Linked DNA regions of Homo sapiens. The protein of the gene in region 5 purifies or fractionates together with the protein of the main gene of each other region. This does not show direct contact. Each region holds a gene or a part of one and is shown on either strand. Other genes may lie near its edges.

Evidence for each region.
Region 1: the proteins of SMARCAD1 (region 5) and ZNF649 purify together in Homo sapiens (affinity purification with mass spectrometry, with the first as the bait; one study listed by BioGRID). This does not show direct contact.
Region 2: the proteins of SMARCAD1 (region 5) and ANAPC7 purify together in Homo sapiens (affinity purification with mass spectrometry, with the first as the bait; one study listed by BioGRID). This does not show direct contact.
Region 3: the proteins of SMARCAD1 (region 5) and BEND3 purify together in Homo sapiens (affinity purification with mass spectrometry, with the first as the bait; one study listed by BioGRID). This does not show direct contact.
Region 4: the proteins of SMARCAD1 (region 5) and ZFP14 purify together in Homo sapiens (co-immunoprecipitation; one large-scale study listed by IntAct). This does not show direct contact.
Region 6: the proteins of SMARCAD1 (region 5) and RFC4 purify together in Homo sapiens (affinity purification with mass spectrometry, with the first as the bait; one study listed by BioGRID). This does not show direct contact.
Region 7: the proteins of SMARCAD1 (region 5) and CPSF3 purify together in Homo sapiens (affinity purification with mass spectrometry, with the first as the bait; one study listed by BioGRID). This does not show direct contact.

What each region holds. Positions count from the first base shown.
Region 1 is NC_000019.10:51,894,589-51,898,628, reverse strand, and holds part of ZNF649 (zinc finger protein 649), read left to right. Parts: intron 1-1,650; coding exon 1,651-1,777; intron 1,778-2,061; coding exon 2,062-2,157; intron 2,158-2,332; exon of another isoform or gene 2,333-2,468; intron 2,469-4,040. UniProt on the Homo sapiens protein: Transcriptional repressor. Regulator of transcriptional factor complexes and may suppress SRE and AP-1 transcription activities mediated by growth factor signaling pathways.
Region 2 is NC_000012.12:110,386,307-110,390,346, forward strand, and holds part of ANAPC7 (anaphase-promoting complex subunit 7), read right to left. Parts: intron 2,318-4,040; coding exon 2,206-2,317; intron 1,587-2,205; coding exon 1,433-1,586; intron 164-1,432; coding exon 21-163; intron 1-20. UniProt on the Homo sapiens protein: Component of the anaphase promoting complex/cyclosome (APC/C), a cell cycle-regulated E3 ubiquitin ligase that controls progression through mitosis and the G1 phase of the cell cycle.
Region 3 is NC_000006.12:107,101,582-107,105,621, reverse strand, and holds part of BEND3 (BEN domain-containing protein 3), read left to right. Parts: intron 1-4,040. UniProt on the Homo sapiens protein: Transcriptional repressor which associates with the NoRC (nucleolar remodeling complex) complex and plays a key role in repressing rDNA transcription.
Region 4 is NC_000019.10:36,376,131-36,380,951, reverse strand, and holds the start of ZFP14 (zinc finger protein 14 homolog), read left to right. Parts: upstream 1-1,750; 5' UTR 1,751-1,789; intron 1,790-4,821. UniProt on the Homo sapiens protein: May be involved in transcriptional regulation.
Region 5 is NC_000004.12:94,210,544-94,214,583, forward strand, and holds part of SMARCAD1 (SWI/SNF-related matrix-associated actin-dependent regulator of chromatin subfamily A containing DEAD/H box 1), read left to right. Parts: intron 1-2,491; exon of another isoform or gene 2,492-2,609; intron 2,610-3,194; exon of another isoform or gene 3,195-3,227; intron 3,228-4,040. UniProt on the Homo sapiens protein: DNA helicase that possesses intrinsic ATP-dependent nucleosome-remodeling activity and is both required for DNA repair and heterochromatin organization.
Region 6 is NC_000003.12:186,796,417-186,800,456, reverse strand, and holds part of RFC4 (replication factor C subunit 4), read left to right. Parts: intron 1-2,842; coding exon 2,843-2,922; intron 2,923-4,040. UniProt on the Homo sapiens protein: Subunit of the replication factor C (RFC) complex which acts during elongation of primed DNA templates by DNA polymerases delta and epsilon, and is necessary for ATP-dependent loading of proliferating cell nuclear antigen (PCNA) onto primed DNA.
Region 7 is NC_000002.12:9,443,860-9,447,899, reverse strand, and holds part of CPSF3 (cleavage and polyadenylation specificity factor subunit 3), read right to left. Parts: intron 1-4,040. UniProt on the Homo sapiens protein: Component of the cleavage and polyadenylation specificity factor (CPSF) complex that plays a key role in pre-mRNA 3'-end formation, recognizing the AAUAAA signal sequence and interacting with poly(A) polymerase and other factors to bring about cleavage and poly(A) addition.

The DNA.
Region 1 (4,040 bases), on a different chromosome or scaffold from region 5:
GGTTGATGATTTAATCATGCCCACGTCGTAGAAGCTCCATAAAAACCCCCATGGGGTTTGGAGATCACATGTGGAAGTGGGGGGTGGGGGAAGGGGGCACTGCAATTCCATGGGATCAGAGGCTCCTGTGCTTGGCACCCTTTGGACCTTGACTTCTGTACCTCTTTACCTGGCTGTCATTTGTATCCTATATAATAAACTGTAATTGTGTGACATTTTCCTGAGTTCTGTGAGTCATTCTAGCAAATTATCGAACCTGAGCAGGGAGGTTGTGGCAACCTCCAGTTGTGGTCAAGTTGGACAGAAGTGTGATAACGTGGGGACCCCAGAGTGGCACATGATGTGAGGGCAGTCTTGTGGGACCGAGCCCTGAAACCTGCAGAGTCTGATGATAACCCTCAGCGGTTAGTGTTAGCATAGCATCGAACTCTAGGATACCCAGTTGGCATCAGAGAAAGTGTTGCTGGAAAAGACACTGTGTATTTGGTGTCAGAAAGAACCACAGATTCATAGTTTTTTTTTTTTTTTTTTTTGAGACAGTCTTACTTTGTTGCCCAGGCTGGAGTGCAGTGGCGTGATCTTCGCTCACTGCAACCTCTGCATCCTGGGTTCAAGCGATTCTCATGCTTCATCTAGGTGCCACCATGCCCACCTAATTTTTGTATTTTTAGTAGAGACCATGTTTAGCCATGTTAGCCAGGCTGGTCTCAAACTCCTGACCTCGGGTGATCCGCCCACCTTTGCCTCCCAAAGTGCTGGGTTTACAGGCGTGAGACATCATGCCCGGCCTCATGGATAGATTTTCAATGTGAAAGACTCAAGTTAAATAGTACACATAGTGTGAAAACAAAGTTCCCCCTCTGTATACTTTTTTTCCTAATTCCCTAGTATGTCACTAACAAATGCTTGTCTTCCTGTTCTAGGGATTTACCTGTGAGGACATCTATGTCTGCATGCGTGTGTATGTGTGTGTATACATGCGTTGTATACATATACATGTATCTATGCATGTCAATGCTTACATGTATGATGGCTTATTTTTTATGGCCACTGCATAGTTTATTTGTTGTTTTGCTAAATATCATGGTATAGTTTACATGAAGGGGGTCATGCTAGATTATTCTGCACGTACTATATGACTGTAGCATATAGTTTAGGGTTGCAAGTAGGTGCTGAAAAACACTGCAGACATTCTCATGTTAGCAAGAGGATTTAATGGCTGCATATTACAGAAACTTATGATTTGTTGGATTAATGGATGGCTGCATGGTTATTATAAAATATAGAATATTTTACTATGACTTTGCTTCTTTCACAGTATATTTAAAAAACTAGGAATACAGTTTATTTGTGAACATGAATTTGTACTGCAAGGGTCCACTTATATCCAAACTTGAATCAAAAATATAGTATTCTCAGGATGTGAAACTCGCTTATACAGAGTAACATAAGCAGATTCCACTAGGCCAACTGTAGGTCATGAGTATGCACAATTTCGGTATATGTGGGGCATCCTGAAACCATTCCATTGAGTATACCAAGGGACAACTGTGCAGGTGCAGCTTATGTGGTGAAAATGGGCCGAACAACTTCATATTTCTTCCATGTCAATAAAAGAGAAACATATTAAGCAGGACTGTGTTATTACAGGAATCACTGACCCTGGAGGATGTGGCTGTGGACTTCACCTGGGAGGAGTGGCAGTTCCTGAGCCCTGCTCAGAAGGACCTGTACCGGGATGTGATGTTGGAGAACTACAGCAACCTTGTGTCAGTGGGTGAGGACAGCTGCCCTGTGTCACTCAGAGGGTACCCAGTCAGTGGCCTTTGCTTTCTCAGCTTCTGGAAGCTTTGGTATGTCTGCTGTGCTCCCAAATGGCAGATCCTCAGGCCCGTCTCTGGTCCCACAGGAAGAGGCATAATCTTCCTTCGTCTTAGAAAAAAAGCCTTTAATTTGCTAACATGCAAATTATGCAGTCCCTAACATGTACCTTTCTCCTATCATCAGAGCCACGTGGTGCAATTCAGTGAGCCTAAGTCTTCTCCCATTTCCCACAAACAGGGTATCAAGCCGGCAAACCTGATGCCCTCACCAAGTTGGAACAAGGAGAACCACTATGGACACTAGAAGATGAAATCCACAGTCCAGCCCACCCAGGTAAGTGAGAGAGAACCAGCAAGAGGGGAAGGCAGCGGAAGTCACATTCTGGTCATTTAGAGAAGGCATGACAGTTGTGAAAGTGTCTAGGGAGACAGAAACAGCTGCCACATCTTCTTCTCCCCTAGGATACAAGAGCTCTTTTTCTTATAGGAATTCAGAGAAGCATACATACCCCTTTATCTCTTCTTGGAACTGATCCCTATTCATTTCTTCTTAGATGTTGAGTTGCTTCCCCTAAGTTCTTCTTGCTTGGATTTTCACATCTTCCCATTCTTCTTCATCACTTGTCAGAGGATCATTTTGTGTTTCTGAGGCAAAAACGACAAACTGTTTTTTTCTCTGTCACATAGTCACTCAACACAGCATTTATGCCACTGGATATATAGGGGTTGTTTTCTCACAGCCCAGGCAATTCTCCAGCAGACATCAGCTGGGTATCGTCTGTTTCAAATCAGCTCTGACCCTATCTACCTGATACGGCATCAGATCCCACCGGTTAAGGGCTCAGTCCAAGACTGTGTCCCACTTCAGATGCCAGTGGCAAGTCCCAGGTTGTCACCTCAGCTTCTGACCAACCAGCTGTAAAGTAGGGGTTCCCAAGACCCTCTCCTCAAGTTTGATTAATTTGCTAGAACAGCATTTATATGTATATGCGTGTGTGTATATATGTGTATGTGTGTGTGTATGTGTGTATATACATTTATATATATACTTTATATATTTATATGTATATATACATTTATATAAGAGAGAGAGGGAGAAAGAGTGCCATAAGCATTGTCTAGAGTTACTGATTCATCAAGTGAGATAAGAACTGAGGCATAGGAGGCCGGGCATGGTGGCTCACACCTGTAATCCCAGCACTTTGGGAGGCTGAGGCGGGCGGATCACAAAGTCAGGAGTTTGAGACCAGCTTTGCCAACATGGTGAAACCCCATCTCTACTAAAAATACAAAAATTAGCCGGGCGTGGTGACATGTGCCTGTAGTCCCAGCTACTCAGGAGGCTGAGGCAGGAGAATTACTTGAACCCAGGAGGCAGAGGTTGCAGTGAGCTGAGATCGCGCCATTTCACTCCAGCCTGGGTGACAGAGTGAGACTCTGTTTCAAAAAACAAAAAGAAACGAAAAACAAAAAAACAAAAAAACTGAGGCATCGGTATGTGATTATGGTTTGTTTTTCACATTCTGACACTATGTATTTTTCACCTTGAATTTTCTTTTCATGAAATGGTTTTTAATACACTACAATATAATAATATCTTCCATGTCTAAATTCCCATTCTACTTTGCATCCCAATCACACACAAGCCACTCCCATAGATACCACATCAGTGTGATTTGGTGGTGCTTGAGGTTCCTTTGCTACTCTGGAGTCAAGGGCCTGGTTTTCATTCTTCTTCATGTAAGATTGAAATACATCTTGGTCATTCATGCATTTCTTCATCGAAGGACAGATTAGCCAGGCTGAAGAGAGGTCATACTTTTCCATCTATTAAGCATTTCTTAAAGGCTAGATCTTTATTAAAGGAGTTTTCATGACACTGTCCATACCAAGGCCTCTTGCTCTGTGAGTCTGGTTTTGTTAGAATTGAGTTGGGGGCCTGGGCGTGTCTTTACATGAAGCTCTCTCGGGGGCTGTTTTTATGAGTTGATGAACTGTAGCCATAATACACAGTAGAAGAGACTGAATTTAGTGAGAAACAGAAATGTCTTTCTTGAGCAAAGATTTTGTTAGCAAAAATAGGGCAAATTTTTATGTAATATTTACAAATTAAACTTTTGAACGTGTGAAATGTTTTTGTTACAATTCAGGGCTATACAAAGTTAAAGTGAATAGTAAATACAGAAAGAATTGTAGGACTTTAGAAGAAATGTAACC
Region 2 (4,040 bases), on a different chromosome or scaffold from region 5:
CTGCCCCAAGAATTACTTACCTTTTATCAGATAAGGATCCAACATCTGTGCCTGTTCAAACTTGAGGACAGAGTTTTTATTGTCTCCAGCTCTGAAGTACAGATCTGCCAAGCTTCCCAATAGGTCCACGTTATCTCGCAATAAGGATTTTTTCTCTAGTGAACTTTAAGATATTTATTAAACATTGAACCTTTAAATCTATTATAAATCCTCTTAGTTGCTGAATCTGGATGATTGGTCATACAGATACTATTTTCTTTTGCATAAATATAAAATTCTTCGTAATAAAAAACTTTAAGCTTATGACTTTAAAAAAAGTTATATAGGACAGGATAGCAAAAACAAAGAATAAAGCAGAAGTCTCTCAGTACCAACAAATAACTCTGTGGTTGCAGTTCTTCAGAACACAACATACGCTACATGGTGTTAAAGGTAATGTCATTCACAAGTGACACCTATTTATTACTCAAGTAAACGACTTTGCATAACACAAGCCCAAGTCTCTTCTTGTCCTTGAACTTTATCTGAATATAAAGAAAATCCCTAGTCCTAAGCAGGCAAGCTAGGTTAGACACTGCAATAAACCAAGCTTCTGGTGAGTGCAAAATGATTTTCTTCCAGGCTGAAGAATGATACACCAAGGCCAGGCATGGTGGCTCACGTCTATAATCCCAGCACTTTGGGAGGCCCACGTGGGAGAATCACTTGAGCCCAGGAATTCAAGACCAGCTTGGGCAACATGGTGAAATCCCATCTCTACAAAAACATACAAAAATTAGCTGGGTGTGGTGGCATGCGCCTGTAGTCCCAGATACTCAGGAGGCTGAGCAGGAGGATGGTTTGAGCCCGGGAGATTGACAGGTCAAGGCTACACTGAGCTGTGACTGCGCCACTGCACTCTAGCCTGGGAGAGAGAGAGAGAGAGAGAGAGACAGAGAGACAGAGAGACAGAGAGAGAGAGAGAGAGAGAGAGAGAGAGACAGAGAGAGAGAGAGAGAGAGAGACAGAGAGACAGAGAGAGAGAGAGAGGCAGAGAGAGAGAGAGACAGAGAGAGAGAGACAGAGAGAGAGAGAGACAGAGAGAGAGAGAGAGAGAGAGAGAGAGAGAGAGAGAGAGAGAGAGAGACCGACCTTGTCTCAAAAAAAAAAAAAAAAATGACACACCAAGGTAGCCTGCTTTGCTTTGCAAGGGTTACTACCTGTGCAGGCACAGAGCTAAACTCAGTCAGATTTCTATTTTTACAGGTCTCCAACAGAGATGATTACATGATTACATTTGGGACCATTCAGTATAAAAGACTAACACATCCCAGAGACTGGCTGCAGCACCAACAGCAAAGCATCTCATTTTTCTTTTTGCTACTTCAGATACATCAGACTTCCAGACAAGCAAAGGGCCTCAAGAACACTGAATTAACTTTGTGGCTCTCACCAGATGGTACTGATTGCTCTTGAGTTGTCACCAGTGTGCACAAAAGCATACGCTTTGATCCACACAGAGAGCCAGTCCAAGTTAGGCACGGTTTGGATCACATTCATTGTCATGGATGCCACCTCTGCCCCTTTTACAGAAAGGGACAACAAGCCTAAACCAACAGAAAGCAGAAGAAAGAAAGTAAGGCACGATATCTCTCTTCCACATGCAAGGAGCAACGGGCTACATCTTCCCTTGGCTAAAAGGCAACTGCTTCCCTATTCTGAGCGATGCATGAGAGAAAAACCATAATTTAGTATTTCTTTTCTTTTTGAGACAGTGTCTTGTTCTGTCCCCCTGGGCTGGAATGCAGTGGCACAATCTCAGCTCACTGCAACCTCTGCCTCCTGGGTTCAAGCGATACTCATGCCCCAGCCTTCCGAGAAGCTGGGACTACAGGCACGCGCCACCATGCCTGGCTAATTTTTGTATTTTTAGTAGAGACGGGGTTGTGCCATGTTGCCCAGGCTGGTCTCGACCTGCTGAGCTCAGGCAATCCACCCACCTCAGCCTCCCAAGGTGCTAGAATTACAGGTGTAAGCCACCATGCCCGGCCAAAAACCATAATTAAGTATTTCTTGATTGAATATGTGACAACAGGAATCCTACTAAATCACTCTCTTCAGGGGAACTTTTAAAAAAAATAAAGTTATTCTAATGTACAGGCAAGATTGAGAACTACTATCTTTGACAGTAAACATGCCATGAAAACAGGCAGGAAATATCTCTACCTAGAATGGCATCAAGGGCTAATGGGCACTGCCTCAGCACCTCCTTATAGCTGGTGACTGAAGGGCGCTCCTGACCAGCCTTCTTGTACAGGTTTGCCAGCATCATGTTTATCTGTACAAACACAAATAACAGATAGCAAAATAAGCGTATATTGCAAAGAAAATCTCTCACCATGAAAAAGTCCTAATTTTCATTACCAGTTATTTACTTTTTACTGGAAAATCTACCCACAACCCTGTGCAAATAAAGGCAGACTGACCCCATTCTTCAAAAGAAAGAAGAAATTGGCCAGGTGCAGTGGCTCACGCCTGTAATCCCAGCACTTTGGGAGGCCGAGGTGGGTGGATCACGAGGTCAGGAGATTGAGACCATCCCGGCTAACACAGTGAAACCCCGTCTCTACTAAAAAATACAAAAAAATTAGCTGGGCGTGGTGGCGGGAGCCTGTAGTCCCAGCTACTCGGGAGGCTGAGGCAGGAGAATGGTGTGAAACCGGGAGGCGGAGCTTGCAGTGAACCGACATCACGCCACTGCACTCCAGCCTGGGCTACAGAGTGAGACTCCATCTTAAAAAAAAAAAAAAAAAAAAAGAAAAGAAAAGAAATTACTACCCTTCCTTTCCCTAGCTCCTGCCTTCCCTAAGAGGAAAGTCACATTACCTTCCCACAAGGCCCAGTAATATCTGAACAAAAGACGCTGCCCTCTGGAAACTGGAATAACATTCATTTAAGAAATGGTAGAGAACGCTAGTTAACTTGATTCTTTCTTGATCTTAAAACAGAAGATGAACTATCTCACATAAGAAAGTGAGAAACTCTTGACATAGCTAGTTAAGAAGGATCAGCTCAGTTTTTCCTAATAAGGAAATGATACAGAAAGACAGATAAAGAAGTATAATACTTGGCTTTTCTTTGACAATTCGACTTGTGGCTAGACTCTAGCCTTTCTAACACTTAAGGCTTTGGCCCGTAGGTACTAACTCACTAAAGTAATGCTACAAAAATCAGCTACACTATTTAAATCCAGTGAGTGCAGACAGCTGCATTTTAGCGTAATTTAAATATGTAACTTTGTAAAGCTAAATTAAAATAATCCTACCTAACATGCAACTGGGAAATGAGAAAATCTAAAAGTTCTGGCCGGGCGCAGTGGCTCATGCCTGTAATCCCAGCACTTTGGGAGGCCGAGGTGGGTGGATTACGAGGTCAGGAGATTGAGACCATCCCGGCTAACACAGTGAAACCCCGTCTCTACTAAAAAATACAAAAAATTAGCTGGGCGTGGTGGCGGGCGCCTGTAGTCCCAGCTACTCAGGAGGCTGAGGAAGGAGAATGACGTGAACCCGGAAGGCAGAGCTTGCAGTGAGCCGAGATCGTGCCACTGCACTCCAGACTGGGAGACAGAGCGAGACTCCGTCTCAAAAAACAACAAAAAAAACCCACAAAAACAAAAAAAAAGCCAGAAAATCTAAAAGTTCCTAAGAATGTAGAAGTTATAGGCAAGTGATAAAAGACCTTCCTAATAGTACACAGATAAACACAATATTCCAATTTAAAATTAGATTTTTTTTTTTGAGACGGAGTTTCACGCTTGTCACCCAGGCTAGAGTGCGATGGCACGATCTCAGCTCACTGCAACCTCTGCCTCCTGGGTTCAAGTGATTCTCCTGCCTCAGCCTCCTGAGTAGCTGGGATTACAGGCACCCGCCACCACGCCCAGCTAATTTTTTTTTTGTATTTTAAGTAGAGATGGTGTTTCACCATGTTGGCCAGGCTGGTCTTGAACTCCTGACCTCAGGTGATCCAACCACCTCGGCCTCCCAAAGTGCTGGGAT
Region 3 (4,040 bases), on a different chromosome or scaffold from region 5:
TGATTAGGCTCACGCTGCTGTCCCAAAAGACCTGGTCTGTCTGCTCTCTCCACAGCAACTGACTATTCAAAGAACTTGATAGAAAGGTACCCCGGGCCACTCCCAGCCGCCTATGGGTTCACTAGAGAATGTCCTTTTGGAAATCTATGGGCTGGACAGGGAAAAGGCCAGTGATCCTGATCAACCGCCCCCTGCTTAGAAGACCATGTCATCTCCCATCCCAGTTCTTTTTTTTTTTTTTTTTCTTTTTTGAGACAGAGTCTTTCTCTGTCTCCCAGACTGGAGTGCAGTGGCGCGATCTCGGCTCACTGCAACCTCTGTCTCCCAGGTTCAAGCGATTCTCCTGCCTCAGCCTCCGGAGTAGCTGGGACTACAGGTGGGTGCCTCCACGCCCAGCTAATTTTTGTATTTTTAGTAGAGATGGGGTTTCACCACGTTGGCCAGGATGGGCTCCATCTCTTGACCTCGTGATCCACCTGGCTTGGCCTCCCAAAATGCTGGGATTACGGGTGTGAGCCACTGCGCCCAGCCAACAGTGGACTTTTTAACCAAATATCCTTTCATGCTTGCTGATTTTTGTTCTGTGTGCATGTACAGTCAGCCCCGCCACATCTGCAGGTTCATCCAACTGCAGGTAGAAAATATTCCAGAAGCTGGAGCTGGACACAGTGGCTCACACCTCTAATCCCAGCACTTTGGGAGGTCGAGGTGGGTGGATTGCTTGAGCCCCAGAGTTTGAGACCAGCTTGGGCAACGTAGGGAGGCCCGTCTCTACAAAATAAAAAACTAGCTGTATGTGGTGGCGCATGCCTGTGGTCCCAGCTGCTTGGGAGGCTGAGGTGGGAGGATGGCTTGAGTCCAGGAGGTTAAGGCTGCAGTAAGACACGATCATACCACTGCACTGCAGCCTGGGTGACAGAACCCATCTTAAAAAAAAAAAAAATCCAAAAGAAAAACCAGTAAAAAATTACACCACGAAAAAACTATACACTATAACCACTATTTATATACCACTTACATTGTATTATTATAAGTAATCTGGAGGTGATTTAAAGTATACAGGAGGATGTACACAGGTTACATGCAAATATTATGCTATTTTTTATCAGGGACTTGAACATCTGTGGATTTGGGTGTCACTGGGAGTCTTGGAACCAACCCCCTGAGGATACTAAGGCATGACTATATTACCTGGTAAAAAATGGGGAAAAGCCACATTATGTATCTTCCCTCTTAAAATGAACACTAAAAAGATGAAGTGTCCTGTAGTGTGTAACTCTTTCCAGCCTATCTCTTTGTGATGTGGTTCTTCCTTTTTTTTTTTTTTTTTTTGAGACGGAGTCTCGCTCTGTCGCCCAGGCTGGAGTGCAGTGGCGCGATCTCGGCTCACTGCAGGCTCTGCCTCCTGGGTTCATGCCATTCTCCTGCCTCAGCCTCCCGAGTAGCTGGGACTATGGGCGCCCGCCACCACGCCTGGCTAATTTTTTTTTGTATTTTTTTTAGTAGAGATGGGGTTTCACCGTGTTAGCCAGGATGGTCTCCATCTCCTGACCTCGTGATCTGCCCGCCTCCAAAGTGCTGGGGTTACAGGTGTGAGCTACCACGCCCGGCCTTCTCTTTTTTCTTTGTTTTTTCTTTCTTTCTTTCTTTCTTTCTTTCTTTTTTTTTTTTTTGAGACGGAGTTTCGCTCTTGTTGCCTAGCCTGGCGTTGAATGGCGCGATCTCGGCTCCTCACAACCTCCGCCTCCCGGATTCAAGCGATTCTCCTGCCTCAGCCTCCTGAGTAGCTGGGATTACAGGCACGCGCCACCATGCCCAGCTAATTTTGTATTTTTAGTAGAGATGGGGTTTCTGCATGTTGGTCAGGCTGGTCTCCAACTCCCATCCTCAGGTGATCCGCCCGCCTTGGCCTCCCAAAGTCCTGGGATTACAGGCGTGTGCCACCGTGCCTGGCCTCTTTTTTCTTTTTCTTTTTTCCTAGGCTTAGCTCAGCTGTCTGAGGGACATAGAACAGACATCCCTTGGGGAGAAAGTTGATTTTGGGGAACGTGTGGATGTGTTGACTGTCCCATAATTTGAGGTTTATGGTGGGAGGCATGAGAACATTTTGAAAATGAGAGAATGTCAGAATGAGAAGTTCTCCAGAGTCCAGGAGGCAAAGGGAATGCTCACAGCAGCCTTTAGGAGGTGGGTGCTGTGGTGGTTGGGTAGTTGTGGCAGCGCCTACGTAGCCTATAGTCAGGTAGGCGAGAGGAATGTCTGTGGCATGCTAGGCATCTGGGTGCTGGGTGTCCACCCAGGAGGAGCAGAGCTTGTGACCCTCATCTGGGCAGGTGACCAGGAAATGGAGGTAGCAGTGTGCTCCCCATCCCCTTTCTGCCCAGCTGTGACATTGTTGGTGTGCTGTCCCTGCGCCAGCTGGGGATGCAGGGAGTGGCCTACACATCTCTCTTGTAGAAGCTTTTCTGTATTGTGGGGTGGAGTCTGTTTCTACGCACGGAGCAGACTGACTTTCCAGAGTGCTAATGGAGGCAGAAGGAGATGTGGTTTCCTGGTGCTGTTGGACAGAGGGACTCAAATTTGGAAACAGGCCCATGGTTCATCAGAAGAAGCTTAACAAAAGAATGAAGACTCTATTATTTCCTCCCTGGCTGGCTGAGGGAAGGCACAGAAAGACTCGATTTGAAGCCAGGTTCTGCCACTCAGTGATGTGACACTGGAGGAGTTACCTGTCCTGGGTTTCTCTATTTGTTGAAATTGGAACTAAAATAGCTCAGGGTGAGGCACAGGCACACATGCAGTGGCCAGCCCAGTGCCTGGTGTGAAGTTGGTGGGCTGCAGATGTTACAGGGGATGCTCACCTCACTCCCCACTGCGCAAGCCAGGGGCAGGCGCGAGGTTTCCAGGCCTTGCAAATGGGAGATTCCCCAGCTTCTTAATGAGTGAAGCTGATTTGCTGGCCCGGAGGGAAGGGGCCCACCATGCTGTGTTCTGGGCTACTTCTGGGCTAACCTAGCATCTGTCACTAGTCTATAAATGGACACGGAAGTGTTTTCCAAAGCACAAGCACTCGGTGTCTTGAATGCCCAGGCAGCCGCACCAGCACCCCTTCCTCCCACCTCAGCTGCATGAGCCCTCTGGGGTTTCTGCCCACTGCAGGTGGCTGAGATGTGTGCTCTTCCTTCATCACTTTATAGGGGCTCAAAATTCAGAGGCCAAATTGCCTGCTGTAGGGTCACATGGTGGTGGTTCAGAAAATAGCCTCCTTCCAACCCCACTGGAAACAAGGAAAAATAAAAAATCAGAAAATAGGTTTTCTGCTCACCAAGCCACATTCCCGGCAGGCTCCATGTGGCAGCCTGGACTCCAGCCCTGCACTGCTCCCTATGTGATGGGCCTGCCAGAGACACATGGTTGGGCGAATATAATGGCAGATAAATAGACTGCCCTTCTCACCACCCATGGCCCTGTCTGCTGTGTTCTCTCATCGACGCCTGTTTTGTTTTGTTCTAGTATTTGCCCATCCTTTTAGTGCTTTCCACTTACCAGAATCTTTGACTCTTTGCAATTTTTCTTTCACCATGACCCTTTTCCTCCCCAAATAAACCAACCGCTGTCTCCTCCCTCTCTGCCTTTTCTCTGCCAAATGTAATTTGTTTTGTAAAGTATGTCCGCCTCTGACAGCCATCGTTTTGCCCCATCTGTTCTGCATCTCAGAACTCCCCTTGATTGGCAGGAATGGGTTATGTGACCATGGCAGTTTCCAAGGGCAGGGGCATTCAGGTGACCTGCAGTGTGTTTCCTTGAGAGGCCTCCTACCAGGCTGGGAATCCGGTCTTGAATTTCTGCCTGGCATTGTCCAGCCCTTCTAGCCACTCAGAGACACCCAGCTCAGATGATGGCGATCCAAAGTGAGGTGTAGTTCCTTGAAATACAGTGGAAGGAGTTGCTAAAATTTGACTCTGGTAAAATAGTTCTCGGACCCTTGAAGTTGACTTATTATTTGTTTTCTGTCAATATCACCCTGTGTGTAATGTTTT
Region 4 (4,821 bases), on a different chromosome or scaffold from region 5:
AAAAAAAAAACTTAGTCAAAACAGAGAATATGGAGGAGCTATTTTAATAATTCTTTTTATTGTTTTTTTAATGGAGTGTTGATTTCCTTACATAAATTTAATTGTAAACATGTACATAGGACCGTGATTTTGAATTAAAAAAATACTTTGGGCCTTCGGCCTTCTTAGTAGTTTTTTTTGTTTTGTTTTGTTTTCGTTTTTGTTTTGATACGGCGTCTTGCTCTGTCGCCCAGGCTGGAGTGCAGCTGCACGATCTTGGCTCACTGCAACCTCCGTCTCCCTGGTTCAAGCGATTCTTCTGCCTCAGCCTCCCGAGTAGCTGGGACTACAGGTGTGCGTCACCATGCCCAGCTAAATTTTTTTGTATTTTTAGTAGAGACGGGGTTTCACCATGTTGGCCAGGCTGGTCTCAAACCCCTGACCTCAGGTGATCCACCCGCCTCGGCCCCCCGAAAGTGATGGGATTATAGGCGTCAGCCACCGCGTCTGGCCACCTTCTTAGTAGTTATAAAGTAGCTCAGATTTTTCATTTATCTCCTATTTCATGCATATCCTATTGTTTGCAAAATGAAACCAGATTGCCGAGGCATTTTCAAATATCTTCTAAAGTTTTATATTCTTAAGGAAAGAACAAATTCTTTCATGTATTAACTAATATATCAAAGAATTTGGGATACAGAAGATGCCTCAGGGTGGTCCCTGGTGGGCTTATCCCATTTCTTTCCTGAAGGAACGCAGGACAGGACAAATTCAGTCTCATTGGAGACAGACCTCTCCAGTTAGTCTTTTTCTTTTGAAACGGAGTTTCGCTCTTGTTGCCCAAGCTGGGGTGCAATGGCGGATCTCAGCTCAATGCAACCTCCGCTTCCCGGGTTCAAGCGATTTTCCTGCCTCAGCCTCCTGAGTAGCTGGGATTACAGGCGCGCGCGACCACGCCCGGCTAATTTTTTGTATTTTTAGTAGAACAATACATTCACAACTGCAGGAGATACGAGACACACACACACACACACACACACACACACACACACACACACACAGAGACAGAGACAGAGTGGGAGAAAGGGAGAGGGCAGTGAGCACGAGCGACCTTTCTAGGTTTACGTCCTGCTCCAGGTTCTGGTGGGCTTTGAGAGTATTTTCATTGCATGCCTGATGTGTGCCCACACCTTGCTTGGGTGTATGCAGTGAGTAACTGGTAGGTGTTTAGTACACATATTAGGCATCTGCTGGTGCCAAAACTTCTTTCTAAATCCTCCGCGGCTGAGCCTGGTGGCTCACGCCTGTAGTCCCAGCACTTTGGGAGGCTCAGGCGGGAGGATCTTTTAAGCCCAGGAGTTCGACACCGGCTTGGGTAACATAGGGAGATCTGGTCTCTATAAAAACTTAAAAAATGAGTTGGGCGTGGTGGCGCGCGCCTGCAGTCCCAGCTACTCTGGAGGCTCGGGTGGGAGGGTCGCTTGAGCCCGGGAGGTCGCGGCTGCAGTGAGCTCTAATCACGCCACTGCACTCCAGCCTGGGCGACAGAGTAAGACCCTGTCTCAAGAAAATAAACAAATAAAAGTCTTCCTCAGCGACAAAAGCAAACGCAAGCCCGAGCTCGCCTCAGCCCCACGCAGCGCGGAGGGCCTTCCCGCCCCGAGCGCACCCGGGGCTCCGGCCCCCGCGCATGCGCACTCCGCGCAGCCCGTTGGGGCTGGAACCAGTCCCTCCCATCGGCGGACTACATTTCCCACAGGCCTCCGCTCGCAGTTCTTTCCGGCTTCGCTGCTGGTGTCGGCTCCGAGAGGTGAGTTGGTCGCTTGCACCGAGGCAATGGGCGCGGGGGTGGCGCGGGGGCGGCGCAGACCTCAGTGTGAGCCAGGAGGCAGTAGCTGTGGAGTTTGTGGCGCTGACTGGGCGCCGGGTGCCCTGTTGCGTCCTCTGCCTTCTCGCTTCAGAGCCGCCCAGGTCCAGCGGCCCGGAATGGCTCCGAGTTAGATACAGGAACCCCGGAGTGAATGAAGGCCCCCAAACAAAAAGACGCAGTCTGAAGAACTGCAGATTGCACAGCTTTACCCGAGCTCCCTCCCATGGAAACTGCGGGGAACTCGGAGACAGATCCCAGCCCCGTCTTCGTGTACCTGGCCTTTCGCTCTGATACGGGAAAGGGTCAGCTTTATTCCAGGCTCCCTGTTATTTCCATCGGGTTTTGCGCGCAGTAGACGGAGGGAGCAAGTGCGCTAGCGGGGGTGTGTCCTGCTCAGCCAAGGCCGGCTCCAGGAAAGGCCCGCGGTCTCAAGATTCCCGTCTCCTTTCCCAATCCTGCTGTTCTTTAGGAAGGCAGCGGGGAGAGGAGGAAATGATTGCTGTTGCATATAGACAAGTCAACATCCAGATGAGTTTGTGTTTCCGTTTTGTTCCATGAAGTGTAATTTTTATTTTTTCTGGGCGTGGGGGCATTTGCTTTCCTCTTCTGTGGAATGAAAATCAGCTCGGACTGAACAATGAAGCAGCTCTGTCATTAATCAGGCTAGGAAGGAAGAGACAGATAAAGCCAGTTGCAAAATTAATAGAAAACATGATTTCTCCCCAGGTGGTGCAGTAGTTGTAAAATGGCATAATGACTCCCTCTTTGAGAGATTACAGTTTTCTTACCAGTGATGTTCTAGACTTGCTTTGCTGTTTTCATTTTATTACTGGGGATACCCTCTTGATTACACTCATGATTGCATTCAATATCTCATTAATCCCTGCCTCTCCTAATCTCACCTCGGAAACAGCAGCCATTCCAGATTGCAGCTGTCATTAGATCCTCCTTAGAATCTTTCAGCTGGAACTCAACCGTTTACGAAAGAGCTTTTCTCGTCTCTCTCGTCCATTCTATTCCAACCCTTCCTGTGGAATTTTCTCCCTTTCTGCCAGTCAATAGATATGATTTTGTCAGACTATGCGGGCTTGTTCCAGTTAATCTTCAGCTAGTTAGACTTTAACCCCTGAAATGTCCTGTCCACTGACCTGGTGCTTTGGCCTTCCTTCCCAGTGAATGATGGGGTGATGAAGGTAGATTCCAATTCCTACCCCTTTCCAGTAGGTTTGTTTTGTTTTGTTTTTTTTTGTATTTTTTGAGATGGAGTCTGGGTCTGTTACCCAGGCTGGAGTGCAGTGGCACGATGTGCTCACTGAAACCTCCGCCTCCCGGGTTCAAGCAGGATTCTCCTGCTTCAGCCTGCCAAGTAGCTAGAACTACAGGGATGAGCCACCGCACCCGGCCTCCAGTAGGTATTGACATGAGCATTTGGCAGTAATTTAGTTTCTCTTATGAGCTGCCTCTTTCTAATCATTTGGATGGTCTGGAAGTAAACCTCCTGAAGAGAAGCTAACTGCAGAGCTTTATTTTGTTACTTAAGTTTTTTTTTTTTTTTTAGAGACAGGGTCTCACTCTGTCCCTCAGGCTGGAGTGCAGTGAAGTGATCTCGCTCCCTGCAGCCTGGACCTCCCTGGCTCAAGCGATCCTTCCACCTCAGCCTCTTGAGTAGCTGAGACCACAGGCACGTGGTCCCACGCGCAATTTTTAAATTTTTTTGTAGAAATGAGGTCTCCTTATGTTGCACAGGCTGATCTTGAACTCCTGGAGTCAAGGAATTCTTCCACCTCAGCCTCCCAAAGTGTTGAGATTACAGGCGTGAGCCACCACGTAGAACTTTCATTCGATGGTGATTAGTTGAGGAGTTTACAGTTTAGATGGAATTACCCACTAGGTCTCTTTGATCCCCACCGCCCTGAGTTCAAAAGCAGGGAAAGGAGGTGGTTTGATTGGCGACAGGATCTTTTCTGCTTTTGAGGCTTTTAAGGAGTGACAATACGATGGGGTTTTTAGTGGAGAGGTCTGTGTTAACAAGGGAAGGGGTTATTAGAAGGGAAGGGAAGACAGTAGAAATTTGGAAAGTGGCTTGAAGTTTTTGACAGCATGAGTGTTTCAGGCCACGTATTTATCAGGTCTCATGAGATGCAGTTTAGTACAGTGACAGTCGTATGGGTTATGGAGCTAAAGTAGGGGGGTTCTAGTCCTCAACCTGCCACTTAAAGCTGCCTGAGCTTGGGGCAATTTATTTAATCTCTTTGTGCCACAGTTTCATCATCTGCAAAATGAGGATAATGATAGACCCTGCTATATAGGATGGCTCTGAGTAGAGGAATTAATATATGCAAAACCCTTAGCTAATGCTTGGCACATAATAAGTGCACAGTAGATTTGTTACCGTTAGGTTGTAATTTAATATTTTTCCTCATCACCCAGATCCAAAAATTGGTATCCTACCACATTTGTTTTATCTTTGTACCCTCCTTTTGTAAATTGTTGATAATCAAGAAGGATTGCCTATCAAGAGCAGGGCTGCGAAGAATTTTTTTTTTTTCTTTTTTTTTGAGACAGAGTTTTGCTCTGTCACCCAGGCTGGAGTGCGGTGGCACGATCTTGGCTCACTGCAGCCACCCGCCCCAGGTTCAAACCATTCTCCTACCTCAGCCTCCCAAGTAGCTGGGGTTACAGGCATGCATCACCATGCCTGGCTAATTTTTATATTTTTAGTAGAGATGGGGTTTCACTATGTTGGCCAGGCTGGTCTTGAACTCCTGATCTAAGTGATCCGCCTGTGTTGGCCTCCCAAAGTGCTGGGATTACAGGCCTGAGTAGAATTTTAAAAATAATTGTGGGAAGAAGCATATGTAGTATTCTTCATCTTTATTAATATAGCTGACTTTTATGAAATGCTTATTTACTACTCTAAGTGCCTTATATGTAGTATCTTATTTATTTCTCATAACAATCCTTTCAGGTAG
Region 5 (4,040 bases):
TTGAGCTTAATGATAGCGGTAGAAATGGAGAAGAAAGAGATATGAGAGGTTTCAAAGTAATGAAGGGCAGGGTTTAGATCCCTGATGGGAATGAGATAAGATGAATGGTAAGATTTTTATGCGCGGTGGCTGAAGCCTGTAATCCCAGCACTTTGGGATGCAAAGGTGGGCAAATCACCTGAGATCACAAGACCAGCCTGGCCAACATAGTGAAACCCCGTCTCTACTAAAAATACAAAAATTAGCCAGGCATGGTGGAGCGTGCCTGTAATCCCTGCTGCTCAGGAGGCTGAGGCACAAGAATTGCTTGAACCTGGGAGGCAGAGGTTGCAGTGAGCCTAGATCACACCACTGCACTCCAGCCTGGGGGACAGAGACTGTATCTCAAAAAAAAAAAAAAAAAAAAAGGTAAATGTCTTTAAGAATTCAAATAAGAATCGAAGGTCTGGCTGGGCACAGTGGATCACCCCTGTAATCCCAGCACTTTGGGAGGCTGAGGCGGGCTGATCAGCTGAGGTTGGAAGTTCAAGACCAGCCTGACCAACATGGAGAAACCCCGTTTCTACTAAAAATATAAAATTAGCTGGGCATGGTGGTACATGCCTGTAATCCCAGCTACTCGGGAGGCTGAAGCAGGAGAATCACTTGAACCCTGGAGGTGGAGGTTGCAGTGAGCCGAGATTGTGCCATTGCACTCCAGCCTGGGCAACAAGAGCAAAACTCCATGTCAAAATAAATAAATAAATAAGAATAAAAATCAAAGGTCCTGCCCCCAAGTGCTAATTTAGCCTGGGGTCTAGGGATTGCTGAGGAAGTGGGGATTCAGAATTGAGTGTTGGATCTCTGGAGAGGACAAGATACTGAAGTTAGATTTTAAGGTCAGGACTGGAGATGAAAATTGGTGAATTATAAATAGGATGTGACTATTGACCTTACTTCTTTATCATGTGGTAACTTTTCATACTCCCATTGTGGGATAATGCTGCGTTAGTTTATTTACAGTAAAGTGTCAGGTCAAACTAAGTCAGCTTACAGGACAGAAATTGTATGTAGTCAAAATTACCTGTAATCACTCTTTTTGACTAATCCTGTTATTTTATCTAGTGAGTTGACTTCATTTCCTATGACCCTCCTTCAGTTACTGTGCCACCACCACATTGTTTCTTGAATCTTTCAAGCAAGGTCCCATCTTTGCTTCTTCCAATTTGCTTTTTTGCCTGGAAGACTCTTCCTGCTGATATTTGCATATGACTCAGATGCTTTGTTTCATTAAATCTCAGTAAAATGTCACCTTTTTAAGAAGACCTTCCTTGATCACCCTGTGAAATAGCCACCCACCCCAGCCCACCCTACCCCAGCTTTACTGTTATTTTTCTTCATAGTATTTATCACTAGCTAACCTTTCATTATGTAGTTGTGTATCACTAGCTAACATTACATTATATAGTTGTGACTCCCTTGTTAGAACATATGATTCATGAGAGCAGGACCTTATCTGTTGTGTTCACCTATTTATCTCCATTGTTCAGGGCAACGACTGGCTTGTCGTAGGCCCTCAATAAGTGCATTGAAGTAAATATTATTGCATGATGAGTGGGCATTATTAGTACTTTATACATTTTTTAAAATTTATTTATTATTTATTTGTTTTTAGACAATCTCACTGTGTGGCCCAGGCTAGAGTGCAGTGGCAGAATCTTGGCTCACTGCAACCTCTACCTCCTGGGTTCAAGTGATTCTCATACCTCAGCCTCCCGAGGAGCTGCGACTACAGGCTCATGCCACCATGCCCGGCTAATTTTTGTATTTTCTGTAGAGACGGCATTTCGCTATGTTGACCAGGCTAGTGTCAAACTCCTGACGTCAAGTGATCCACGTGCCTTGGCCTCTGAAAGTGCTAGGATTATAGGCATGAGCCACCACGCCCAGCCCTATACATATTTATTTATTATTATTTTTTTGAGATGGAGTCTTGCTCTGTTACCTAGGCTGGAGTGCAGTGGCACAATCTCGGCTCACTGCAACCTCTGCCTCCTGGGTTCAAGCAATTCTCCTGCCTCAGCCTCCCAAGTAGCTGAGACTACAGGTGCACACCACCACAGCCGGCTAATTTTTGTATTTTTAGTAGAGACAGGGTTTCACCATGTTAGCCAGGCTAGTCTCAAACTCCTGACTTCAGGCTATCTGCCTGCCTTGGCCTCCCAAAGTGCTGGGATTACAGACATGAGCCACCACACCTTTATTTTAAAATAGGACCTTAAAATAGTCCCTTTAGCCATCAGGTGTTCTTTGGCCATGGTTGCTTGAAGCTTCTTTTGGTACAGGACATCCTCCCTAATGCCCCTCTAAATCCCAGCCAGCCTTTGGATTTGAGGGCATACACTTAACCTCTGCCCCCTGATTTATTTTACTCTTCTCGGTGCCCAAAGTTGTCAATGATTGTTATTTACACATTATTTCTCCTTTTTTTCTTTGACTTTTGGGAGTACAGTGAGTTTGGAGGGATTGAAATAATGGCAGGTGAAAGGGAAGAGAGATCCTACTATATTTTATGAATAAAGAATAAAAATGAGTGAAGCCTGATCCTCCAAGAGCACCAGGAGAAAATGGTATGTAAATATATAGTTAAAATAGTATGGTGTGATAAAACCATATAATAGGGCAAAATACTAAGCAAAGTAGAATCACTATCTGTAATTCACAAATGATTGAATTATCCATTCTTCAGGGGAGGATCACAAAAAGTCACAGAGATATGACCTTTGGAGTGGACTCTAAACAATGAAATCATTGTTTACTGGGTGAACAAATGATGAGAGAGTTGAAAATATATGTTGCCTCCAAGAGTCTAATATGTGTGTGGAGGGTTGGGGGCAGATTATAGAACAGGAGGTTTTAGACAATATAGATGAAACTGAAAAGATAGAAGTGTAAACCATTGGGTTGTGAGGGGCCTTTATATCCTGTGTCAGGGACGGTAGATCTTATTTGGTACACATCATAGAGCATTTCATTATGGAAATGCTATTAGTGAAGCTGTTGTATTCATTGAAGCCTCAATGTAGGGAAATGACTGTAGAGATGACAGAGGAGGCAACTGAGGGGAGTTGTAAATGATACGCATTTGATGATATTAGGTGATCAGTTGAATGTGGAGGATTTACAGATAACTCAAATGTTCCTTGCTTGGACAGCTGGAGGATTGACACCATGGACTGAATTAAGAGGTGAGTTTAGGAGAAAGATACTAAAAATTATGTTGTGTTTGCATTACCCATCCTATTTTAGTACCAAGGTAGTAGATGGTTGAATATTAGAGCTCAGAGAGTGGTCTAAACCCTAGAACTTGGGACTCATCAATGTCCTAAGCAGGGTGTACAATAAAAAACATCATTTGACAATGGGCAGGAAAACCAATGAAAAATTTGAAGGATGACTAGAATAGTCATAGAAAATGATAGTGTCCTGGATACCTAAATACCTAGTTTGGTATTTAGTTGTCTAGTAACAAATCCTGTAGAGAAGTCAAGTTGAGTGGGGACTGATCAGTGACCAGTTTCCTTGGAATTAAAAGTAACTACTAACCTTTAACAGTTTCAGTAGAATGGTGATGAGATAGAGATTATTCATTCAGGAAAGGAAAGAGAGAAATAGGTAACCTGATTGGGAAGTAATGTCAAGAAAATATGTTTCAGGATTATTGAAAATTGAGCGTTCTTTTGTTTTTTTTTTTTTTTTTGAGACAGTTTCACTCTGTCACCCAGGCTGGAGTGCAGTGGCGCAATCTCAACTCACTGCAATCTCTGCTCTCGGGTTCATGCCATTCTTCTGCTTCAGCCTCCTGAGTAGCTGGGACTACAGGTGCCCGCCACCACGCCGGGCTAATTTTTTTTTTTTGTATTTTTAGTAGAGACCCGGTTTCACCGTATTAGCCAGGATGGTCTCAATCTCCTGACTTGAGATCTGCCCGCCTCGGCCTCCTAAAGTGCTGGGATTACAGGCATGAGCCACCGCACCTGGCCAAGCGTTTGTTAACCAAG
Region 6 (4,040 bases), on a different chromosome or scaffold from region 5:
GTTTCAAGATTTGCTTCCTTCCTCTCAATCTGGCTGCTTTTAATTAGAAGTTCTTTTGGGTTTTGCTGCCATCATTCCCTTGCTGAAATTATATTACTACAGTACACATTTTGAAAGAAGTTAAATTTATAAAACTATTTAGAATCTTTTTCTTTACCAGTATGTGTTTTGATTTGACTCGCATACTCTTATACCTTTTTGGCCGGCCACAGTGGCTCACGCCTGTAATCCTAGCGTTTCGGGAGGCTGAGATGGGAAGATCACTTGAGGTCAGGAGTTCAAGACCAGCCTGGCCAACATGGTGAAACCCCATCTCTACCAAAAATTAGAAAAAGTAGCCAGGCGTGGTGGCACACACCTGTAGTCCCAGCTACTCAGGAGGCTAAAGCGGGAGAATCATTTGAACCTGGGAGGCGGAGGGGTTGCAGTGAGCCAAGATTGTGCCACTGTACTCCAGCCTGGGTGACAGAGTGAGACTCTGGTCTCAAAAATAAATAAATAAATAAGTAATAAAAAATAAATAACACAAATACTCTTATACCTTTTAATTTTATAATAGTATAGCATTTTATTTTTTGGTATATTCTGCTTGCATATCTTGGTAACAGTATATACCATTTTAATTGCAGTTGCATAGTAATTACACAGATTGCAGGACAATATCTAATTTAATTACTAGTATCTTCAGCAAATGTAGTGAGATTAAGATCCAGTTCTTTTGTTTTTTTGTTTTTTTTTGTAATTGAGACAGAGTCTTGCTCTGTCACGCAGGCTGGAGTGCAGTGGCGTGATACCAGCTCACTGCAACCTCCGCCTCCCAGGCTCAAGTGATCCTCCCACCTCAGCCTCCCAAGTAGCTGGGACTACAGGCATGCACCACCACACACAGCTCATTTTTGTATTTTTAGTAGAGATGGTGTTTAGCCATGTCAAGTGACCTGCCCGCTTTGGCCACCTAAAATGCTGGGATTACAGGCATGAGCCATCATGCCCAGCCTAAGATCTAGTTCTTGACTTTATGCCACGTAATTTATGAGGCTGAAGTAAGAACTTCAGTTTAATATTTTGTGCACCTTTTCAGACTAAGTTTTGTAAAGAGGTGAAATAGTTTTTTTAATTCAAAAGAGTAAAGGAAAACAATTCATTCAATTTATTTTGAAAGGTTTTAAAGAATTATAAGAAGATAATTTTTTCAGAAATTGATTTTAAGAACTGGTATTCCACATACAGTTCTTGAATGTACTACATATATTAGACTAGTGTATAATTAAGGTTTAATAATTTTACCCTGTTTCAAAGAATTTAAATTATTGTATCTGATAGTTAACCTGGATGAATCGTTACATTGTTAAGGGATGCACAGATCAAAATAATAGTTGTAGACCTTAATTACTAAGAAGCCTGGGAGGTTTTTAAGTTATGAATCTCATAGTTTGTTCTGTAAGCTATATGTTATGAATGTAACAGTAATAGTCTTCTAATTAACATATTTGTCTATGTATTGGTTTATTCATTCATTTGGCCAACATTGACTACTGTAGTAGATGCTAGAATACAGATGTGAATAGAACAAATAAGGTTCTTGGTCTTTTAATGAAGTAGACAGGCATTTTACAATTAAGCCCCACAGTGAAATAACAATAAACCAATGCAAAATGCAACAAACACTAATGAGAGAATAGGAGAGGAGACCTACTTTAGACTGAATGGTTTCTGATTTGTAATGCATTAGGAGTTGGCCAGGCAGAAAGAAGAGGATCAGACTCCAGGTCATGGGAGCAACATATGTTCGGGCCAGAAAGTGCCAAGCTGTTAGAAGCCATTGTAAGCTAGAGCCTGGAAGGTGAAGGAGGTGGTAGGCAGATCATGGAAGTCCTTTAGGCCATGGTAAAAAGCTGAGGGTTTTTTGGTTTGTTTTTGTTTTTCTAAGTGGAATAGTTTTAAGTAGCAAGCAGAGTGGTATCTGATTTAGGTGAAGAATGAATGGACAGGAAGAGGGAGGGTTAGGCAAGAGTGGAAACAAACTCTAATGCCTAGTTTCCTGTGTACACTGATTTCCTTATGTGACAGGACATACTGAAGATTGCACAGTATCATAACAGAGCTCATTAGAATTTAGTTGACTTATTAATTTTCACCACGGATCAGTCGACTGCTTGATAGGAGCCAAACTAGCTAGATACAAGGTATAAAAGAAGGTAGCTAGTGATTTAATTTTATCCTTTCCTCTTCTAATGAATTCTCCCTGATACATGCAAGCATCCTTACAGAGTGCATAATCATGATGTGGAGCAGTGCCTAGTACTTAATATATATCTAGTTTTGGATTTTTTGTTAATATTTCTGTTCTTGGTACTTCTGCTCATCCAAAGCCCTAATTATGTCTTTTTTAGTCCTTTTTCCTCAGTTTTGGCCAAATCCCATTACTCTTTTGGTCTGCTTCCCCTTTGAAGCAGCTGACATTTTGTGTAATATAAAATCTTACCTAATCTTGAGCATAGAGGTGGGATAGGAAACTGAGATTCCCTTTAGAAATAAAAGGTTTCTCATTCCAGCTTTGAAAATTTCACCTAAGTGGATTAGCTATAGAGCAAGCATAAATATTGGTTCAGCTTAAGAGATTAAAAAGACACTTGGGGAAAAAAGTGGTAGTATATGAAAAAGCAGGATTTAAATCTGTCAGTACTATGATATCAGTTATATTAAGAAAACTTTATACTTAGAAATTACGTGCCCTATTAGAGAAGTCATTGCACTATTCCACAGACATTTTTTTCGATCTTCCTTTTCATCTATTTGTGCCAGAATACCATTTATTAAAAATAAAATTTAATTTCTACAGCTTCCTAATCTCTTGTTTTACGGACCACCTGGAACTGGAAAAACATCCACTATTTTGGCAGCAGCTAGAGAACTCTTTGGGTACGTTGAAATCAGTCTGTTTTTCTTTTTTTAAAGATTTGACACCAAAATTCTCTGATATTGCTTTTTTTCCTCTAAAAATTTGCGTTTCGTTTTCTGTAGGATAGTTTTCTATTTCTGATTTTTAAAAATCCCATGAGCCATTTTGTTCCTCCCTCACTCCCCTGAAGAAATCAGCTTGCCTGCGTCTTTTGTGACCTTCATTGTGAATCTTGTTCAAGTGTGGGGAGCCTATGATTTTTTCCATCACTTTCTTTAAATTTTCCATTATAACTTTGGAGTCCAGAGGGCCCAACTTAATGTCCAGTTGTGCTGATAGTTTTATCACCCTCTTAATGATTGTGTTCACATCTGTGTGGCTACATGATAGAATCTGCTGTTTCTGATGGCACTATTTGCACCATCCATTCTTGAGTCCTGCTCTGGACTTCCTAGGCTCTGACTCTGGAGTGGCCAGTCCAGCTCCTTGCCTCAGGTCTCCTGAGCACAAGTGATGGTTGATGTAGTGTGATTCCAGGTACACCAGAAAATCTTCCTGTGAGTCACCTTCTTATGTTCCTCTTCCTAGATTGACCATCTTGGCTTAACCAGCCATTCTAGAGGAGCCCTTTACCTAGAGTTAAAAGATGTGTAGTGGGCTGGGTCTGATATACATGAAACATGCACCAACATAACAAAGGCTGTTTTGAGTTTATCCAGAATTAATATCAGACATACAACTGATAGAAATATCTGAAATCCTACATATGAAAATAGGCTGGGTGTGGTGGCTCACATCTGTAATCCCAGCACTTTGGGAGGCCGAGGCAGGTGGATCACCTGGGGTGAGGAGTTCGAAACCAGCCTGGCCAACATGGTGAAACCCCATCTCTACTAAAAATACAAAAATTTGCCAGGCATGGTGGCATGCACCTGTAGTCCCAGCTACTCGGCAGGCTGAGGCAGGAGAATCACTTGAACCTGGGAGGCAGAGGTTGCAGTGAGCCGAGATCACGCCACTGCACTCCAGCCTGGGTGACAGAGCGAGACTCCGTCTCAAAAAAAAAAAGACGCCACTGAAATCACCAAATGTGTAAGGATTATTAGTTATGTCAAAATGTAAAAGACAAAGGGAGAAG
Region 7 (4,040 bases), on a different chromosome or scaffold from region 5:
CAGTTGTAAAGGGCTGACTTCTGTAGTCTCTTCTAGTTTTAAATGCCTATGACTCTTGTACAAAACTATTGCTACCCTACTGTCTTAGAAAACACCCATGGTTCTCTTTTTTCTCTTTTTGTGAGATGGAGTCTTGCTCTGTCGCCCAGGCTGGAGGGTAGCAGTGGTGTGATCTCAGCTCACTGCAGCCTCTACCTCCTGAGTTCAAGCGATTCTCCTGCCTGAGCCTCCCGAGTAGCTGGCACTATAGGTACACGCCACTATGCCTGGCTAATTTTTTGTATTTTTAGTAGAGACGGGGTTTTACCATGTTGGTCAGGCTGGTCTCGAACTCTTGACACCCACCTTGGCCTCCCAAAGTGCTGGGATTACAGGCTTGAGCCACTGTGCCTGGCCTACCTCATATATTGATATATTTTTGGAGACAGGGTCTCACTCTGTTGCGCAGGCTGGAGTCCAGTGATGTGATCATGGCTCACTGCAGCCTCAACCTCCAGGGATCAAGCAATCCTCCTGCCTCAGCCTCCCACGTAGCTGGGACTACAGGCACACGCCACCATGCCCGGCTAATATTTGTATTTTTTGTAGAGACACGGTCTCACATATTGCCCAAGGTGGTCTTGAACTCCTGGGCTCAAGTGATCTGCCCATCTTGGCCTCCCAAAATGCTAGGATTATAGGCGTGAGCCACTGTACCTATCCTAATAAAATATTTCAGAACCAAATGGAACATTTTATTACTTTATATATTTCTTTATTTAAAGAGAGTCTTGCTCTGTTGCCCAGGTTGGAGTGCAGTGGCATAATCTTGGCTCACCGTGGCCTCAATCTCCCAGGCTTATACAATCCTCCCACCTTAGCCACCCAGGTAGCTGGGACTACAGGCATGAGCCACCATGCTTGGCTAGTTTTATTTTATTCTTGTAGAGACAAGGTCTCACTATGTTGTCTAGGCTGGTCTCAAACTTCTGGGCAGTCTTTCCACCTCAGCCTTGCAGAGTGGTACGATTACAGGCATGAGCCACTGTGCTCAGCCCCAAATGGAATATTTTAGAGGGTATTTACAACAACAGCATTAGCTACCAGTCCCTTTCCATTCACTTTTGTAACTTCTATCTTACAAGACAGATTGTTCTTTTTTTTTTGAGACAGTCTTACTCTGCCACCCAGGCTGGAGTGCAGTGTCGTGATCTTGGCTCACTGCAGCCTCTGCCTCGAGGGTTCAAGGGATTCTCATGCCTCAGCCTCCAAGTAGCTGGGATACAGGTGTGAACCACCATGCCTACCTAATTTTTATACTTTTTTTTTTTTTTTTTTTTGAGACCGAGTCTCGCTCCGTCGCCCAGGCTAGAGTCTAGTGGCGTGATCTCGGCTCACTGCAAGCTCCGCCTCCCAGGTTCACGCCATTCTCCTGCCTCGGCCTCCCGAGTAGCTGGGACTACAGGCACCTGCCACCACACCCGTCTAATTTTTTTGTATTTTTAGTAGAGACGGGGTTTCACCGTGTTAGCCAGGATGGTCTCCATCTCCTGACCTCGTGATCTGCTCGCCTTGGCCTCCCAAAATGCTGGGATTACAGGCATGAGCCACCGTGCCCTGCCTAATTTTTATACTTTTAGTAGAGATGGGGTTTCACTATGTTGGCCAGGCTGGTCTCGAACTCCTGGCCTCAAGTGATCCACCCACATCGGCCTCCCAAAGTGCTGGGACTGCAGCCCGGCCAAGATAGATTGTTCTTAGCCTCTCACATGTGGTAGATGGCTTGTGGCTGGGCATAGCCAGCACCAGCACGTGGCAGGGGCTTACTGCTTGCTGGGGAAGGGCCTGGGCCTGGCTGCCTGAACAGAATCCTGGTGCTGCTGCTTATTTAAGCTGTGTAACCTTGACCAAGTGATTTCACACCTCAGTTGTCTCATCTGCAGAACAGCTGTCGGTCATGAAGATTAAGCAAGTCAGTTCATATAAAACACATATACAGTGTCCGGCACATGGTAAATAATCAATGTTAGCTAGTATTCATTACTACCACCAACACTACTAGTATTGCAATTTTATCCTGCAGCTATACTTTTGCTGGAGCTGGTTATCACAAGAAAATGAGCATGAAGTTCAACCCAGGAACTTAAACTGTCAGCAGAAGTAGAACCAGGAGAGTGACAGGATGAAATGGGGCTGAGGATGAGGTGGTGACACCACACAAAAGAGCAATTCGGCTTTTCCTCCCTGGCTTGGAAATCTGGGGGAGTGTTCATGCACACAGACAATAAGAAACACCTGGGAGGAGCCTACTCTGTGACTAAACCCTACACACTGTGATGCTATAGACAGGAGAGTGATTTTTCTTGACCAAATAATCTGCTCATTAAGGGCCAGTGGCAAATACCTGTGAGGCCTATCATGCTAGAAAAAACTCAAAAACGAACAAAAGACTGCATGAAAAGGTGCTCAACATCATTAGTCATTAGAGAAATGAAAATAAAAACCACAACGAGATACCACTTCACATTTGCTGTAAAGTGACACAACCCGAGTGTCCACCCACAGGTGAATGGATAAACAACATGTGGTCTACATATAACGGACCATGACTTCGGCATGAAGTGCTGATACATGCCACAACATGATGAACCTTGAAAACATCATAGGCATTATGATTCCTCTTATATGAAATACCTAGAATAGTCAAATTCATAGAAACAGAAAGTAGATTTGAGATTACCAGGGTTGGCGGAAGGGAATGGGGAGTTACTGTGTAACGGTACAGAGTTTCTGCTTGGAGTGATGAAAAGCTGTGAAAATAGACAGTGGTGATGGTTGTACAACACTGTGAATATAATTAATGCCACTGGTTTGTACACTTAAAAATGGTTAAAACTGCAAATTTTATGTTAGATATTTTACCACAGTAAAACGTATTTAAAAAACAACAAGCAAGGCCAGGTGCAGTGGCTCATGCCTGTAATCCTAGCACTTTGGGAGGCCGAGGCGGGCAGATCACCTGAGGTCAGGAGTTTGAGAACAGCCTGGCCAACATGGTGAAAACCTGTCTCTACTACAAATACAAAAATTAGCTGGGCGTGGTGGCACGTGCCTGTAATCCCAGCTACCCGGAAGGCTGAGGCAGGAGAATTGCTTTAACCCAGGAGGCAGAAGCTGCAGTGAGCTGAGATTGGCGCCACTGCACTCCAGCCTAGGCAACAGAGCAAGACTTCATCCAAACAAACAAACAAACAAACAAACCAAAAAACACCCCAAACAACAAGCAAACAAACAAAACTAACAAAAGGCCATTTCTCCTGCTTTCCAATACATTTGGAAAGGGCACGTCATCTATTTTCTATGGACACATGCTTCATTAGTGTTCTTCTAATTAAAAATACACACTTTTTTCAGCTTACCCCTCCTTTCCAATTCCATCAAAATATCTAACTTATTTTTAATAAGTTACACGATACTTAAAAATATAAGTAAGTCGGCCGGGTGCAGTGGCTCGCGCCTGTAATCCCAGCACTTTGGGAGGCCGAGGCGGGTGTATCATGAAGTCAGGAGTTCAAGACCAGCCCGGCCAAGACGGTGAAACCCCATCTCTACTAAAAATACAAAAATTAGCCGGGTGTGGTGGTGGGCACCTGTAATCCCAGTTACTCAGGAGGCTGAAGCAGAGAGCTGCTTGAACCCGGGAGGCGGAGTTGCAGTCAGCCTGGGTGACAGAGCAAGACTCCGCCTCAAAAAAAAAAAAAATATATATATATATATATAATATATATATTAAGCATTTACTATGTGCCAGGCACCATATTAAGTGCTTTAGATATGTTCTTTCACTTCATCCTTACAATAACCTTATGAGCTATTATTCCTATTTACAAATGAGGTACAGAGAGGTTAAGTAACTTGCCAAGGGTTACATAGTAAGTAAGAGATGGAGCTGGCATTCCAAATGAGCAGTCATACTCCAAGCCTGGCTCTTAAATTATTGGAGAGGCAGCAGAAAATAACAGAAAAACATTAGGATTGGGGTTGGTAGGTCTGAGTCAGTC